Regions from separate parts of the Homo sapiens genome. Here region 1 is linked to region 2. Evidence: fine-mapped expression QTL. Tissue or cell type: whole blood. Region 2 holds a variant in brackets; the other region holds the start of a gene. All regions are shown on one strand. Distances are from middle to middle.

Region 1 (8,168 bases), 76 kb before region 2:
TCCCTGCTGCCATGCCCCCACCATGCAGAATTTGGTCCAATGGACCAAGGGGATTAAGAGACAGAAACTCCAAATAAATGTCTGTTATTGTTATTTCATTCGTTCCATAAAACAATTATACATCAATCCCAAAACAACACAAAATTCAAAACGCTTAATCAAAATCAAACTGATTTTGACTAAGACAAATAAAACTCTAAATTCTCAAACTGAGATAACAGAATTTCATGTGACACTAAACGGTAATTTGTGGGATCATTTAAATAAATTACTAGGAGACAAATGCATAGTTTCTACACCTTTTAGGAATGTTGTGTAATATTTTGTCATAAACGCACCAACTAAACTATCACCCTGAGCACGCTGGAAGATATATGGAAGGGGAGAAACCTATTTGCCACATAGCTTTTAACATCTCCCTTGGGCAACCAAGATATTTATCAAATTGGAGACTATCTTGATAGTCTTAAAAACTAAACTATATCTTAACTTACTCTGGTACGAGAAACAAACCAAAAGCTCTAAATGCTTTTTTAAAAATAGCAATCAGTGTCATTTCACTAACATAGCACAGTAGTCGAAGCACCACTGGTTGAACCTGACAGACCTCAGACCCATCGTAAGGCAATAAATGGAAAATGCTTAACAGTGCTGACAGACAATTAATGCTCAAATGATAATCATGCTAATAACTGAAAACAATTGAGAAAAAAATCCATTTTCTTATTTATCCACTTGAAAGTTCTAACAACATGATAAAAACAATAGCCCAGTGGTTTTCAACTCCAAATGCATGTAAGAATCATCCACAATGCTTTTAAAATATACCTTTGCCCAGGCTCCCTATCAGACCAATTAATCAGTCTCTGGGGGTGGAACCCAGGGATCAGTTTTTTTGTTGTGGTTGTTTTTTAACCCCGCCAAGTGATTCTCATGTCCAGTCAGGGTTGAGGTCCAATGCACTAACTCTTTCCCAAATATTAACGTTAAACTCTATGTTAAAATAATACAAGAACTTAGCAATACACAGGATGGCTTTCAAAAACACAGCTCCTAAAAGAACCAAATGACAACTAAAATCCGGTTTTTTCCCTTTTTGAAAAAAAAAAGAAAAACAATTCAAGACTCAGAAAACATACCTACAAGAGGGGAAACATAATGTAGGCTACCATAAAAAGTAATACGTTCTTTCAGAATAAAAATCAACTAACTCAATCTCAGGATAAGACCCCCCTCACCTTCACTGCCCAAAAGACTTAGAAGAACACTAATCCATTAACACACACTGCTAGATATTTCAAATAACTAATTCTTAACATCTGTTTTAAACAAAGATTGGTTTTAATACTAAAATTTTGAAACTAAAACGTTAGAAATTGATCTTATTAAATAAAAATAAGCTCAAAGACACTTGTTGTGTGACCAACTAATCAAGAACTGGATGATTAGCAAATTCATGACAAACATCCATTTCAAAACCATAAGCTGCATTATTACCACCATGTCAAAGAAAAATCTCTGAGAAGATAGCAAAGAAATCTCATACCTTAAGATATTAAAAACAAGACTCTGGAAGAAAAAAGATCTAAAGTAAATCCTACTTGAGCATTCCATAGATAAAACATGAGAACTGGGAGGTCGACACGGGCGGATCACGAGGTCAGGAGATCGAGGCCATCCTGGCTAACACGGTGAAACCCCGTCTCTACTAAAAATACAAAAAATTAGCCGGGCGTGATGGCACGCGCCTGTAGTCCCAGCTACCAGGGAGGCTGAGGCAGGAGAATCCCTTGAACCCGGGAGGTGGACGTTGCAGTGAGCCGAGATCGTGCCACTGCACTCCAGCCTGGGCGACAGACAAAAAAACAAACAAACAAAACCATGAGAACTATGGACTATGGAACACCAAACTAGAGACCCCAATAACCTGGTGAAAGGTAAAATCTGCCCTTCAATGTTCCTTCCTGAAGTAACTTAAGATTCTCACATGTACTGTTGCTGGTGCTATTACTCCCTCCAGAAATTCTCAGAAACTACCAAGGTCAGCAAACAAAAGAAACATGAGAACGCTGATAACCAGAATTACAAGTTACATGTTCATGCAAAAAAATACAAGAAAAGGGGTAGAGAGAATTCATATAGTCCAAACGTCCTATTTTTAAATTAGAGAAAATAAAACAGTAAAATACCAAAGACATTTTGAGTTCACCTGTGGAACACCAATTCCAAATACTTCAAGCTTTCACTCCACCCAAAAGCTGGAACGATAAAGTTTAAAGGGTTAAAGTTAGATGTATGACACAGCACATGAGTTTAAAAATTGAGAAAACGAATGTTGACACTTTTTTATATTTAATACATAATTCTTCAAGAATTTGAAGGTATTTGCTGAAACCAAAATGGCAGCCCAGCGAATTAGAAGACGAGCGAGATCTAAAGGAGAGTTTATAGTCTCTATTTTTGAGTTCAAGTGTACTAACCAGCCAAGCTAGTCATGGTTAAGGAGTCCTTACCTAAGGGTAATCAGCTCCGAGAGGGTTAAGTACCTGCTGGAAAGTTTCCTAATCAATGCACCCCAAATCATTCTTCCTCAAAAGTGAAAGTATACAAACGTTAAGTAGATTTAGGGACTCATGGGTTTCCAGGTAAAAGAACAGTACACATACTTCTCTCCCCGAAAAATAAAGCATGAATATTTAATCTATACCTACAACTTGCTTATTTAAACTAAAAGACAATCTGAAGCAATTATATACACCTGTAAACTGCACCGTGTAAATTCAATTAACGTTGTAACTATGGAACTTCCAAAAAATAACATGCTTAATTTAAGCAGGTTCTACTAGAAATTTTGCAAATTCTCGTGTAAGTTCTAGTCGCTACAGAAATCCACACAAATAATTTAAGAAGCCATCTACACACCTGCTGTATAACTCTTTAACTTATTTCACAATGAATGAAAAATCAGCCATTTATCCAACCCTAAGCCTCACGTCACAAGAATCTGAAGACCTGATCACTACCAAACTCGCACATGCTAATATTTGCAGAAACAGTTAAAAATAGAAAGGTAATAGGTCCAAGCTAGCTTGGAAGCGATTTCTGCATTCAAAAACCCCTTTCACGGCTTTGGCCCTCTGCAAATAAAGCGGGGCGAAGGAGGTGTAGGAGGCCGATAACCCAGCTCCCACTCCAGGAGCCCAGGGCCGGGGAGAAACTGCGGGTTATCGCGGGAGGGTGGGGGGAGGCGGACAAGTCGTCAGGCCTGATAGCCAGGCGTAGCCGAGGCCTAGCTCCCCAGCTCCAAATCACTCCACCTCAGTAATGGCGTTTGGTGTCAAGTGGAACCAGACCGGGTAGGAAAGCGGCCGCCGGGCGGGGGGCGGCCAGCCCCCAAACCGACCCGGCCCCCGGGTGCGGACGGCGGGGGGGCTGCCCGCCACGCCCGGAGACTCCATCCTCCTACTCGGCCCCAGACAGGACGGGAAGGGGGAGGAGGGGGAGGGACGGAGCCGTCAGCCATTTTCCCTTACAGTCCAAAACACACAGACACGCTCTCGGGACACCGGCTCCACACACAACACGGGCCCGCGCGCCCGCCCAGCCCGGGCCGGAGGAGGGGGAACGGGGAAGCCCCAGCCTGGCCGGCAGCCGCCGAGGGAAGAGGCTCGCACACACGCACACCCCCCTCGCCCTCCTCCCCTCACCCACATCCAGCTGTTGGCCCCGGGAAAGAGCGTCGCCCCAGTGCAGCTGGCCACTCACCGCACGACACAGACGTCTTCTCACAACCAGGGCACACGGAGGCGGGAGGCACCAGGCGACGGTGGGGCTCGGTCCCGGGACGAGACCTACCCTGGGTGCATCCCAGGCCCGGGGGTGACCGGCAACAAAGTGTATCGAAAGGCTGCGGCGGCCGGGCTCGGGGCTGCGGGCGTCTCAACCAAAAGGCTGCACACCGGCGCCGGAACTCGCTCCTCGCCGCGCCCGCCTCCTCCTCCTCCTTGGCCGGCGACGGCCCTCTTCCCCTTCTCCCCTCAGGCTGGGGCTCTCGCTGAGCTCAGACGGGCTCCGGGCGGTGCGTTTCTCCTGCGTCACCTCCTCCTGCTCCTCCTCCTGCAGCGACGGCTTCACCTTCCCCTAGTCGCCGCCTCTGTCCCCGCTCCAGGCCTGGTGGCTTTGAAGTAGCTCGCTCCTCGCTCCCGGCGCCGACCCAAGCACCGGGCGCTAAGGCGGCCGCCTCCCGTGAGAGAGAGGCGGCGGCGGCGGGCTCCCGCGAGGCCCGGGAGCTGTGTAAGGCGGGGAGGGGCTAGGCGCGACAGAGGCCCTGACGGGGCCGGGTGCGGAGAGGTTGCGGCTCCGGCGGCGGCGGAGACTAGCGTCCGCAGCCGCGGATGCCCGTCCTCGTCAATATGGCGGATCCGGCAAACCAAAAAAAAAAAAACCGCTCGGCCAGTGGCGGCGGCGGTAGCGGCGACGGCGGCAGCAGCGGTGGCGGCGGCGGCGGCGGCGCAGACTCCCACTAGCCCCAGAGCCGCCCAAGACCCGAAGTTCTCCGCCCCCGTCAGGGCCCGCCCCTTTCAGGCCCCTCCTTTCGGCCCTCCCCCTGCTCCTGCCCAGCCCCCTCCCGCTCAGCTGCCCCCTCTTCTCTCCCTCCACCCCGGGCCGTCAAGGCTGGGAGAGCAGCGCGAGCCGCTGAGGGGGCCGGGCTTCGGCGCGAGCCGCCGGGAACCCGGAGAGCTAGGGTGGGGGAGGGGAAGACAATGCGGTAAAGATTGTTCGCGCAGTACTGTTTCTTCCGGCTGGCCCCTTCAGGGTCGTGCTACGGCCAGAAATCCTGTTCCATGCCCCTCGGCTCAGGAGCGGGACGAGGGCAGAGGTGGCTCTAGGACCGAAGTTGGGGAAGGGAGGCCCGAAAAGATCTGGCACACCACTCGGGAGGGGCTGGGCGGCAGGGACTGGCGGGGTGTGTGGCCACGACAGGGTTAATCGCGTGAGCCGCAGCCGCGTCGCTCATAGTTTGACTCGGGCCGCTTGTTTTTGTTCCATTGTGAACCGTAGCCCCGCCGACAAGAACCCGGATGATGACGTCACCGGCCTCCCCCTTTTCCGGGACCGTGGGGGGAGGGGCGCGGAAAGATGAGATCTCGAGACCACGCGCTGGGCGGTCGCCGCCGCGGTGCCTGGAGGTCCCGGCGGTGCAGCTGACCCGCGTCACGTGACGCACGAGCTGGCCGGGCCACTGGCTGCGGGGGCGCGAGGTCCCGAGGGCCTGGCCACCTGCTTGGCGCCGATAGGGGGAAGGTGTGGCTATCTCCCGCAGCGGAAGGAGGGGGCGTGGGGAGTGAGGTCCTTTTCCCCACCCCGCGAGGGAGGTGCTCTGAGAAACTCTTTCACACGATCATGCATCATCACTACCTCAAAGCGTTTAGGCGTCCTCAAAGCGTTTAGGCGTCCTCACAGCCTAGCTGACGGGACTGACCACCTTTTTGGCCATAGGAGCCCTTCAAACAGACCAGCAAAGAAAAAAATTATAAAGTGCCCCAGACGGCTTAGCGAATAGGCCGTACTTGATGTGGCAAGATTAGCCTCCATTGCCAGATCATCAGCACAATTCGGTGTTAGGACCCGGAAGAAACTTATGAACCCATCCGCTGTGTCATGGACTATTTTCTACATGTTTATATTCCAAAGTGCGGGCATAGGAAAAACTTAGGCTAATCTCAAATTAATGGGGTGCTTGGAACAAATCTGTACAGTCTACCTAGGATGCCCAAATGAAGAGGAAATTAACAGTTCCTAATTTACAGATTTCCTTTTGACTTAAAAAATACCTGTGGACATCAAATGGCATGCAAAATCATAGTAAAACCCTACAAACCGAGATCTATTTTATAGAGAAGAGGGTTGAATTTAGTTATGCTATGATTATATCAGTTTGTAATAAAAGACTGTTAAAAATGGAACCAAACTAATGTAGGTGACAGTGAAAGCAAGTTATTGGTATCTTAAATTTTTAAACCATTTCTCTATTTAGCACAAGATTGTTTACAAATTTTTCACCACAAATTATCTAATAGGGTATCCAAGATGTATCATTCATAGCCCTAATAACTCTTAGCATATGTTACCTTGTTTTTATAATTATTTCCATGAATCATTTGCTTCCCCACTAGCTCATGGGCTTCTAAAAAGCAGACACGACCACCCGCGTACACTATAGGCTGTTATTTTCTATTTTAGATAAGGAAACAGAAAGGGTAAATGATTTGCCCGAAGTCAGGATTGGAAAGTGTTGAACACTGGTCTTTTAACCCTATCAAAAGTGCACCTTTAACAAGGATGTCCCCTCTCACCAATTCTGTTCAATATTGTACTTGCAGTTCTAGCCTGAAAAAGAAATGAAAGGCATCCAGATAAGAAAGGAACAATTAAACTATCGCTACTTTCACATGACATGATTTTATATATAGAAAATCTTGGGAAATCCATTATAAAAAAAATAAAGCCAATAAGCAAGTTCAGCAAAACTGCAGGATATAAGATCAATATTTAAACATCAGTTATAGTTTTACACACTAGCAATAAACAATCTGAAAATTAAGTTAAAATTCCATTTACAATAGCATCAAAATCAATAAAGTTAAAAATCGATTTAACAAAAGAAATGCAAGATTTGTACATTGAAAACTACAGAACATCATTGAAAAACATTCAAGACTGAAATAAAAGTATTAAGATAGCAATACTCCTCAAATTGATCTACAGAGTCAATGCAATCCCTATCAAAATCCCAGCAGGCTTTTTTTTTTTTTGCAGAAATGGACAAGATGATGCTAAAATTCATACAGATAAGGAGTTTCCCCCCCACCTCGCCACTAGCCAAAACAATCTTGAAAAAGGAGAACAATGTTGGGAGGGCTCCTACTTCCTGATTTCAAAACTCACTATGAAACTGTACTGCGTAAGGACAGGTATATATGCCAATGGGATAGAATAAGGAGCTCATAAATAACCCTTAACATATATGATCAACTGATTTTCCACGAGGGTGCCATGACCATTCAATGAGGGAAAGGATAGTCTTTGCAATAAATGGTGCTGGGAAAACTGGATATATATATATATATATATGCAAAAAAATGGAGTTGGATCTTTTCCTCACATAACATACAAAAATTAACTGAAAATGAATCAAAAACCTAACCATAAGAGGTAAAACTATAAAACTCTTAGAAGAAAACGTGACAGGGAAGTTTCACAACATTGGATTTGGCAATAATTTCTTGGATATGACAATAGCACAGGTGGAAAAAATAGACAAATTGGAGTTCAACAAAATTAAAAACTTTTGTGCATCAAAAGACACTATCAACAGAGTGAAAAGGCAACCTACAGAATGGGAGAAAATATTTGCAAATAATATATTTGATATGGCATTAATATCCAGAACATATAAAAAACTCCTACAACTCAACTCAGCAAAACAAAAAACCCAAGTCAAAAATGGGCAAAGGACTTGCAGAGCCATTTCTTCAAAGAATATATGTAAATATCCAATAAGCACATGAAAAGACACTTAACATCATAGTCATTAGAGAAATGCAAATCAAAACCACAATGAGATACCACTTCACACCCATTAGAAAGGCTATTAACCAAAAAAATAATAATAATACAGTGTCCGGCCAGGATGTGGAGAAATTGGAACCCTCCTACATTGCTGGCATGAATGTAAAATGGTGCAGCTGCTGTGGAAAACAACATGGCAGTTTCTCAAAAAGCATAAAATTACCATATGACCCAGCAATTCCACTCCTAGGTATATACCCCAAAGAAGGGAAAACAGGGACTGTAACAGACACTTGAACACCACCGTTCATAGCAGCATTATTCACAATAGCCAAAATGTGGAAACAACCCAAATGTCCATCAACAAATGAATGGATAAACAAAATTTGGTGTATACACACAATGAAATATTATTCAGCCTTAGAAAGGAATGAAACTCTGATACATGCTACAACATGGATGAACCTTGAAAACATTATGCTAAGTGAAAGAAGCCAGACACAAAGGCCACATATGGTATGGTTCCACTTATATGAGGTACCTAAAGTAGTCAAACTCATAGAGACAGAAAGTAGAATAGAGGCTACCAGGGGCTA
Region 2 (8,193 bases):
CTTAAAGGAGAGGAAATATATTGGCTTAACTTTTTTTTTTTGAGACAGGGTCTTACTCTGTCGCTCAGGCTGCAGTGCAGTGGCGTGATCACGGCTCACTGCAGCTTCAACATCCCAGGCTCAAGCAATCCTACCTCAGCCTCCCGAGTAGCTAGGATTACAAGCATGTGCCACCATGCCTGGCTAATTTTTTTTTTTTTTTTGTATTTTTAGTAGACATGGAGTTACGCCATGTTGGCCAGGCTAAACTTGGCCTCCCAAAGTGCTGGGACTACACTGTGCCTGGCCTTTATTTTTCATTTGTTTATTTTTTTAAGAGACGGTGTCTCGTTCTGTGGGCCAGGCTGGAGTGCAGTGGTGCCATCATAGCTCATTGCAGCCTCAAACTCCTGGGCTCATGGAATCCTCTCACCTCTGCCTCCAGAGTAGGTGTGACTACAGGCATGCACACCACATCTGGATATTTTTAAATTTTTTGTAGATACAGGGGTTTCACTATGTTGCCTAGGCTGGTCTTGAACTCCTGAGCTCAACAGATCCTCTTGCCTTGGCCTCCCAGAGCGTTGGGATTACAGGCGTGAAAGGTGTGAACCTTAGCACCAGCCAGAAAATTCTTTTTTTTTTTTTTGAGACAGAGTCTCGCTCTGTCACCAGGCTGAAGTGCAGTGGCACGATCTTGGCTCACTGCAACCTCCACCTCCTGGGTTCAAGCAATTCTCGTGCCTCGGCCTCCTGAGTAGCTGGAATTACAGGCACGCGCCACCACGCCACCACACCTGGCCTGAAAATTCTTTAAAACTGGAAAGGAAAGGCCAAGCGCAGTGGTTCACGCCTGTAATCCCAGCACTTTGGGAGGCCGAGGCGGGCGGATCATGAGGTCAGGAGATCGAGACCATCCTGGCCAACATGGTGAAACCCCGTCTCTACTAAAAATACAAAAAATTAGCCGGGTGTGGTGGCGCGTGCCTGTAGTCCCAGCTACCAGGGAGCCTGAGGTGGGGAATCGCTTGAACCCGGGAGGCAGAGGTTGCAGTGAGCCGAGATCGCGCCACTGCGCTCCAGCCTGGCGACAGAGCAAGCCTCCGTATCGAAAAAAAAAAGAAAAAAAAAAACTGGAAAGGAAATACTTCTGAGTCCAGGCAGACAAAGCCTGGTGGATTGAGGGGCGGCCCCCAAGGGATGTGTTCTCATTCCTAACTCCGGCACCTGTGAATGTGACCTTATCTGGCAAAAGGGTTTTTGCAGGTGTAATTAAGTTAAGGATCTCAAGATGAGGAGATCACCCTGGATCATCTAGGTGGGCCCTAAATTCCAATGACAAGTGTCCTTATTAGGGCACTTATAAACTCATAAAACTTATAAACTGGACACAGTGGCTCACACCTGTAATCCCAGCACTTTGGGTGGCCGAGGCAGGAGGATCACTTGAGCCCAGGAGTTAGAGGTTGCAGTGAGCTATGATCACGCCACTGCACTGCAGCCTGGGTGACAGCGAGACCCTGTCTCAAAAAAAATAAAAATAAAAATAAAAAAGGGAGAGACAGAGAGAGACTTGAGACAGAAGAGAAGATGCAGCTACACAGAGGAGTTGTGACAACAGAGGCAGAGATTGGAGTGATGCGGACATAAGCCAAGGAATGCTAAAGATTGCTGGCAACCATCGGAAGCTAGAAGGAGTACAGCCCTGTGGACACCTTAGTTTTGGATGCCTGGTCTCCACAAGTGCGAGAGGATGCGTTTCTGTGGTTTGAAGCCACCATGTTTGTGGTACTTTGTTACGGCAGCCCTAGAGAACTAGGACTCTGGTAGTAAACCCAGCAAGCTGGAGATAAAACTCCAGGCAGAGCCAAGAGCCAAGAGTTTGGGTCCCTGGGAGTCTCAGGGGGTCCCAGGAGTGGAGACGATCTCTTCTTTGTGAGGATGAGCTGGTGGTTGTCTGGGTTGCACAGTGGTCCCCCTGTGCACTCCTGTGACCAGTGGCCGAGGAGGAATCTGCGGGCTCAGGACTGGCTTGAGAACATTTCATACTCTTGGCCACTGTCAGCATTAGTGCTGCAGGGATGGGTGGATGATCTAGACACAAGTGAGAGTGAGAAGACTTTTAAAAAGCAGCCAAGGAGAAAGCAATCTGTATTTGCTTGGTGGAAATAAAATTCTACTGCACTGTGAGCCAGGCTTATTAATGCAGAGTAGGGAAAAGAAATTGGCAAAGCCAGCCACCTTTTATTTGATAAAGTGACCAGCCACCTGAGGCAGGCATGTTTTAAAGACACTGGGTGAAAACGCTCACTGCGTGAGGGTGGAAGAGGGAGACAAACAAGTATGATTTTGAAAGAACAATGGCATAGAACATTCACATACATACAGACTGCTAGGAAGAAAACGCTGAATTTCAAAATTCTTCTCCACTGGAAACTGTTCTAAGACCTCCTTTCTCTGTTGCAAAGAGAGGAGGCTACAATAAGGAAGAGAAAGGAAAAGATCTTTGATGTATTTATTTATTAACATTAGAGCCTTGACTATTCACCTCAGCATTAACCAGGTAGATATTGTCCTGTTGGTTTTATAATGTTTAAGAATCCTTGAACATCGGTTTGCTCCTGTTCACGTGTAATTTCACATTTAATTTAATTAATGTATCTATTTTGAGATGGGGTCTCACTGTATCACCCAGGCTGGAGTGCAGCGGTGAGATCATTGCTCACTGCAGCCTCAACCTCCTGGGCTCAAGCGATCTTCTCACCTCAGCCCCCAAAATAGTTGGGACTATCAGCTTGCGCCCCACCCCTGGCTAATTTTTATTCTTTTTGAATTTTAGTAGAGACAAGGTCTCCCTTATGTTGCCCAGGCTCAATTTCGTATTTTATATTTAAAGAACTAGATTTCCTAAATAAGAATCACTCCTTTCTCTTTCAAGAGAAGATAGTTACTTAGAGGGTAGACAGGACTGATTATTTTCTTTGGTATGCCCTAAGGAATTATGTAAAACTTGACAGAAAATTTCCAGACTACAAAAATGGCTTCACTACCAATTCCTTCCCCTCTTCCATCTTTTGAGCTTAGAAAAACAAGATAAAGAAGGTTATGTCTTTTCAGTTATTCCTTTCTCATCTATTTCCCCAGTTTGGTCTACACTGAAAGCATACACGATTCTTCCTCCACTGGTTCATTGAATAATCTTCTTTCCTTAGTTCCCACATATCCAATCTATAAATCAAGCACATGAGATATATAGATTCTAAGTATCAGGTGGAATTCTGCCTTACACTCCAGAACATTTTTTTTTTCTTATGCTGTTTTTCATGTAAAGCAGAATCTGTAAGTATCGTAACAGGATTCAGCCAGGGAAACAGAGCCACTGTGAGTATTCTAGGAATAAAACCGTTCACAGCTGTGGGAAGAGCTGGGGAAGTGAATGTCTGGAAGGAGGAGTCAGAAGATCAGAGAGTCACTAGCCGTTGCCGGAAGCACTGGTGCAGTTGGACAAATCAGAGCTTGCAGGAAAATTCCAGAAGCCAAAGCACATCTAGCCACCGAAGCAGGGCCGCGGAGGGGGAGTTCGTGGAGAGGTTTATGGGAGCTGTGGCCTCTACGTAGCTCCCGCCCCATGTGGGGCGACAGCCAAGCCCCTGGTGGTGGGCCCGAGGCAGCTGTTGGGTAGCAGAGCCAACAGCAGGAAATGTTAGCTGGGAGGGAGCAGAGGAGAGAGCCGGATAAACCGGGAGCTGCAGGGCCTCTCAGGGCCCCTCTGTTTCTGTCCTTCACTGTATCTGACGGGAAACCTGCCA[G/A]GGGCAGTGACTGCTGCTCGCCTTCCGCCCTACAATTCTTGCACAAGGTTCTCTTTTGGCCAACTCTAACCCGGAAACACAGCAGGGAGGGGCTTCTAGGAAATGGAGTTCCCAGCCTTAATCGAGTTGCCATAGCACAACTCAGCACCGCATCTCCCAGCGTGATCAATGAAATGACATCACAGGCTCGGTAAAAGCCATTTAAAAATAACTCCTTCATTCTACTGTTCCTCAGCTCAGAAGTCAGGTGCGTGCATAGGTCGCCCTTCGTTAAGATTCTCCACTTACGGAGGTGGTGGACCTGGCAGGGTGTTGTAGGAAGGAGTGGCATGTGCTGAGAAGCTCACAGGATCCTTAGTCCTGGCTGTGACTCACAGGTATTGTGTAGCCTCGGGCAAATCCCTCTCCTCTGTGCCTCTGGTTTGTTCATCTGTAAAATGGGCAGAATTGTACTCAGTTGGCTTTTGCATGGTCCAAATGAGAAAACGGAAGTGAAACCCCCCTGTAAACTGCTAAATGCCAGGATAGTTATAAATTCCTTTTTTTTTTTTTTTTTTTTTTTTTTGCGGGGACGGGGAGGACAGAGTCTCGCTCTGTCGCCCAGGCTGGAGTGCAACGGCACAATCTCGGCTCACTGCAACCTCCGCCTCCCAGGTTTAAGCGATTCTCCTGCCTCAGCCTCCCAAGTAGCTGGGATTACAAGCGCCTGCCACTGTGCCTGGCTAATTTTTGCATTTTTGGTAGAGACGAGGTTTCGCCATGTTGGCCAGGCTGGTCTCAAACTCCTGACCTCAGGTGATCAGCCCGCCTCCGCCTCCCAAAGTGCTGGGATTACAGGTGTTAGCCACCATGCCTGGCCAAATTCCTTTATTTCAAGGAATATTCTTGAGCTTGGCAAAAGTTTGGAGTTTACGTACAAAATACATACTCAAAAGGAATTATGAAGTGAATGAATTCCTGAATAAACATGACTTGGCATCATGGGGAAACAATTTACAGTATTGGTGGGGACATAATTTCAGAGATGGAAGCTGCCAGAAGAGCTTCTTTTCTCCTAAAAGCCCATCCCAGGACCTCACTAGTCCTGATAACCCAGAAGTTTCCCTGCCACTAAAAAGATCTGTTTATTTTCCAGTTAACAAAGAGTGAAGAGGACACTATCATCATCATCATCAACATCATCATCATCATCATTATTATTTGCCTGAAGGCCCAGAGTACACCGTAATGGAGTACTGCTGATGGGAAAGGAATTAGCATTGACCTCTCAGGAGGTTAATTTGGGAGTTTAGCTCATGATCTAGTAATTCTGCTTCTGGAAGTTTATGAGAAGGAAGTGCTCTAATATGTGCGCCTGTGTGATCGCTGGGCTTTAGCATTTTAGGGGTGAGCCAACTGTATCTCAGAGGTGGCCATGTCTTGCATTGAGGAGAGAGAGCACCTGCGAGAACTTCCATGCTATATTCTATTTGGGAAGAACTTGAACCTTGCATAACGTAAACGAAGAGAATTAACAAGAATTTGTGGCACCCCTTCTGTGTCAGTTCTTCTTCCAGATAATAGGAATATAGCAATAAACAAAACAGACCAGGTTCCTGCCCTCATGGGGGAAAGAGGCAATCTAAAAATGAAAAATGGGCCAGGCGCGGTGGCCCACGCCTGTAATCCCAGCACTTTCGGAGGCCAAGGTGGACGGATTACCCAAGGTCAGGAGTTCAAGACCAGCCTGGCCAACATGGCGAAACCCCATCTCTACTAAAAATACAAAAATTAGCTGGGCGTGGTGGCACGTGCCTGTAAGGCCAGCTACTCGGGAGGCTGAGGCAGGAGAATTGCTTGAACCCAGGAGGTGGAGGTTGTAGTGAGCTGAGATTGTGCCATTGCACTCCAGCCTGGACGACAGAGCGAGACTTCATCTCAAAATAAATAAATAAATAAATATAAAGATGAAAAATGTCACCAAATGTCAGATTAAGTACCAAGAGGGAAAATAAAGCAGCGTCAAGGATTAGAGAGTAATATGGGTGCTATTTTTAGATAAGGTGGTCAAGGGGGGGCCTCTTTGAGGAGGTGCCGTTGGGTCAGAGACATGAATGAACAAAGGCAGGAAACTATGCTGATATTTGAAGGCAGAACATTTCAGGAGCGGAGAAAGTAATACACAGGCCGAAGATGAGAAGGAAGTTTACGAACTTCGTTTCTGAGACAAGGTCTCACCCTATCGTCCAGCCTGGAATACAGTGGCATGATCATAGCTCACTGTAACATTGAACTCCTGGGCTCAAGCGACCCTCTCGTCTCAGCCTCCTGAGAATGAACTTCTTTATTCAGGGGACAGCAGGGAGACCAATGTGGCTGGAGCATGGTGAGCAAGCAGGGAGGGTGATAGCAGCTGAGGTTGGAGAGAAAGCCAGGGGACAGATCACACTGGCTTTTGATTTGGGTCAAGTCAGGTGGGAAACCATTGGAAAGTTTTGAAGTGGAACATGACCTTTGCTGGCTTAAATATTGAAAGGCTATCCATGAGGAGTAAATTACAGCTGGGCAAGAGTGGACACAGAGAGACCAATTAAGACCTATTGCAAGTGGTCCATCCAGGAGGCTGTCAGGAGGCTGGACCAGGGCAGGGCAGCAGTGGAGAAGGTGAGAAGTGGTCAGAGGCAATAACACTATAAGAGCAAAGCTGAAGGGATTTGCTACGAGGTCAAATGTGAATTGTAATAGAAAGATGAGAGTCAAGGATGACTTCAAGGTTTTTGGCCTGAGCAAGTGGAAGAATGGAGCCGTTATTTACTAAGAAGGGGGATGCTAGGCAGGAGCAGGTTTGGGAATAATGCAGAATTTAATTATGGACAGATTAAGAATGAGATACAGCCTGGGCAACATGGCGAAACCCCATCTCTACTAAAAATACAAAAAGATTAGCTGGGCATGGTGGTGCGCACCTATAATCCCAGCTACTTGGGAAGCTGAGGCAGGAGCATCGCTTGAGCCCGGGAGGTGGAGGTTGCAGTGAGCCGAGAGTGTGCCACTACACTCCAGCCTGGGCGACCGAGTGAGACCCTGTCTCAAAAAAAAAAGAAAAAAAAGAAAAAGAATGAGATACAGAATAACCATTCAAACTGGGTTATTTAGGTTCTATCCAATACTTTTGTATTTTTAGTGGAGCAATTGGGCACATGAGTCTGGAGGTCAGGACAGAAAATACAAATTTGAGACTCATTAGTGTATAGAGGGTATTTAAAGCCGTTAGACTGGGTGAGCTCATGCAGGAGTGAGCAATAATAGAGAAGAGATCTAAAGTCTGCATACTGGGACACCCTGATGCTGAGAGGTCAGGATGAAGAGAATGAGCCAGTGAGTGAGGAAGAAAACCAGGAGAATGTAGCGTTCTCGAAGCTAAATGAAGAAGATGTTTTAAGGAGGAAGCTGCTGCCTGGGATTTGGGAGGGATTAAATAATAAGCAGGAGGGGCTGGGCGCAGTGGCTCATGCCTGTAATCCCAGCACTTTGGGAGGTTGAGGCAGGTGGATCACCTGAGGTCAGGAGTTCGAGACCAGCCTGGCCAACATGGCAAAACCCCATCTCTATAAAAAATACAAAAATTAGCTAGGCAAGGTGGAGTGCGTCTGTGATCCCAGCTACTTGGGAGGCTGGGGCAGGAGAATCGCCTGAACCTGGGAGGCGGAGGTTGCAGTGAGCCAAGATTGTGCCACTGCACTGCAGCCTGGGTGACAAAACGAAACTCTGTCTCAATAAAAATAAAAAATAAAAATAAGCAGGAGGCATTTGGAATTTTCAGGGCTGCTTGAGTGAGAAGATAAAGAGTTTAGGTACAAAGGCTGGGCATGGTGGCTTACGTCTGTAATCCTAGCACATTGTGAGGCAGAGGCAGGAGGATGGTTTGAGGCCAGGAGTTTGAGACCAGCCTGGGAGACCCTTATTTTTAAATTAAATTTTTTTTTTTTTTGGAGACAGAGTCTCGCTCTGTCGCCCAGGCTGGAGTGCAGTGGCACAATCTCGGCTCACTGCAAGCTCCGCCTCCCAGGTTCACGCCATTCTCCTGCCTCAGCCTCCCGAGTAGCTGGGACTACAGGCGCCTCCACGCCCAGCTAATTTTTTGTATTTTTAGTAGAGATGGGGTTTCACCATGTTAGCCATGATCTCCTGACCTCGTGATCTGCCCGCCTCCCAAAGTGCTGGGATTACAGGCGTGAGCCACTGCGCCCGGCCAATTTTTTTTTTTTTTTTAATTAGCCAGGCGTGGTCATGCATGCCTGTAGTCCCAGCTACCAAGGAGGCTAAGGTGGGAGGATCACTTGAGCCCAGGAGTTCGAGGCTGCAGTGAGCTATGATTGAGCCACTGCACTCCAGCCTGGGAGATGGAGTGAGATTCTGTCTCAAA

Evidence for each region. PIP is the estimated chance that this variant, and not a neighbour inherited with it, causes the effect.
Region 1: USP9X starts here. The variant in region 2 is fine-mapped to the expression of USP9X in whole blood (TOPMed, PIP above 0.99).

Annotation. Positions count from the first base shown.
Region 1 is chrX:41,081,707-41,089,874 of GRCh38, reverse strand. USP9X (ubiquitin specific peptidase 9 X-linked) reads right to left here and starts at 4,430. Exons shown (of 45, transcript NM_001039591.3): 1 at 3,766-4,430. RefSeq lists silencers at 3,236-3,695, 4,396-4,775, 5,206-5,275 and enhancers at 3,820-4,357, 4,896-5,435, 5,185-5,479.
Region 2 is chrX:41,005,976-41,014,168 of GRCh38, reverse strand. No RefSeq gene overlaps it. Among named protein-coding and RNA genes, the nearest start is that of USP9X, 75 kb to the left of the region's middle. The variant G/A (reference allele first, on the strand shown) is at 3,789.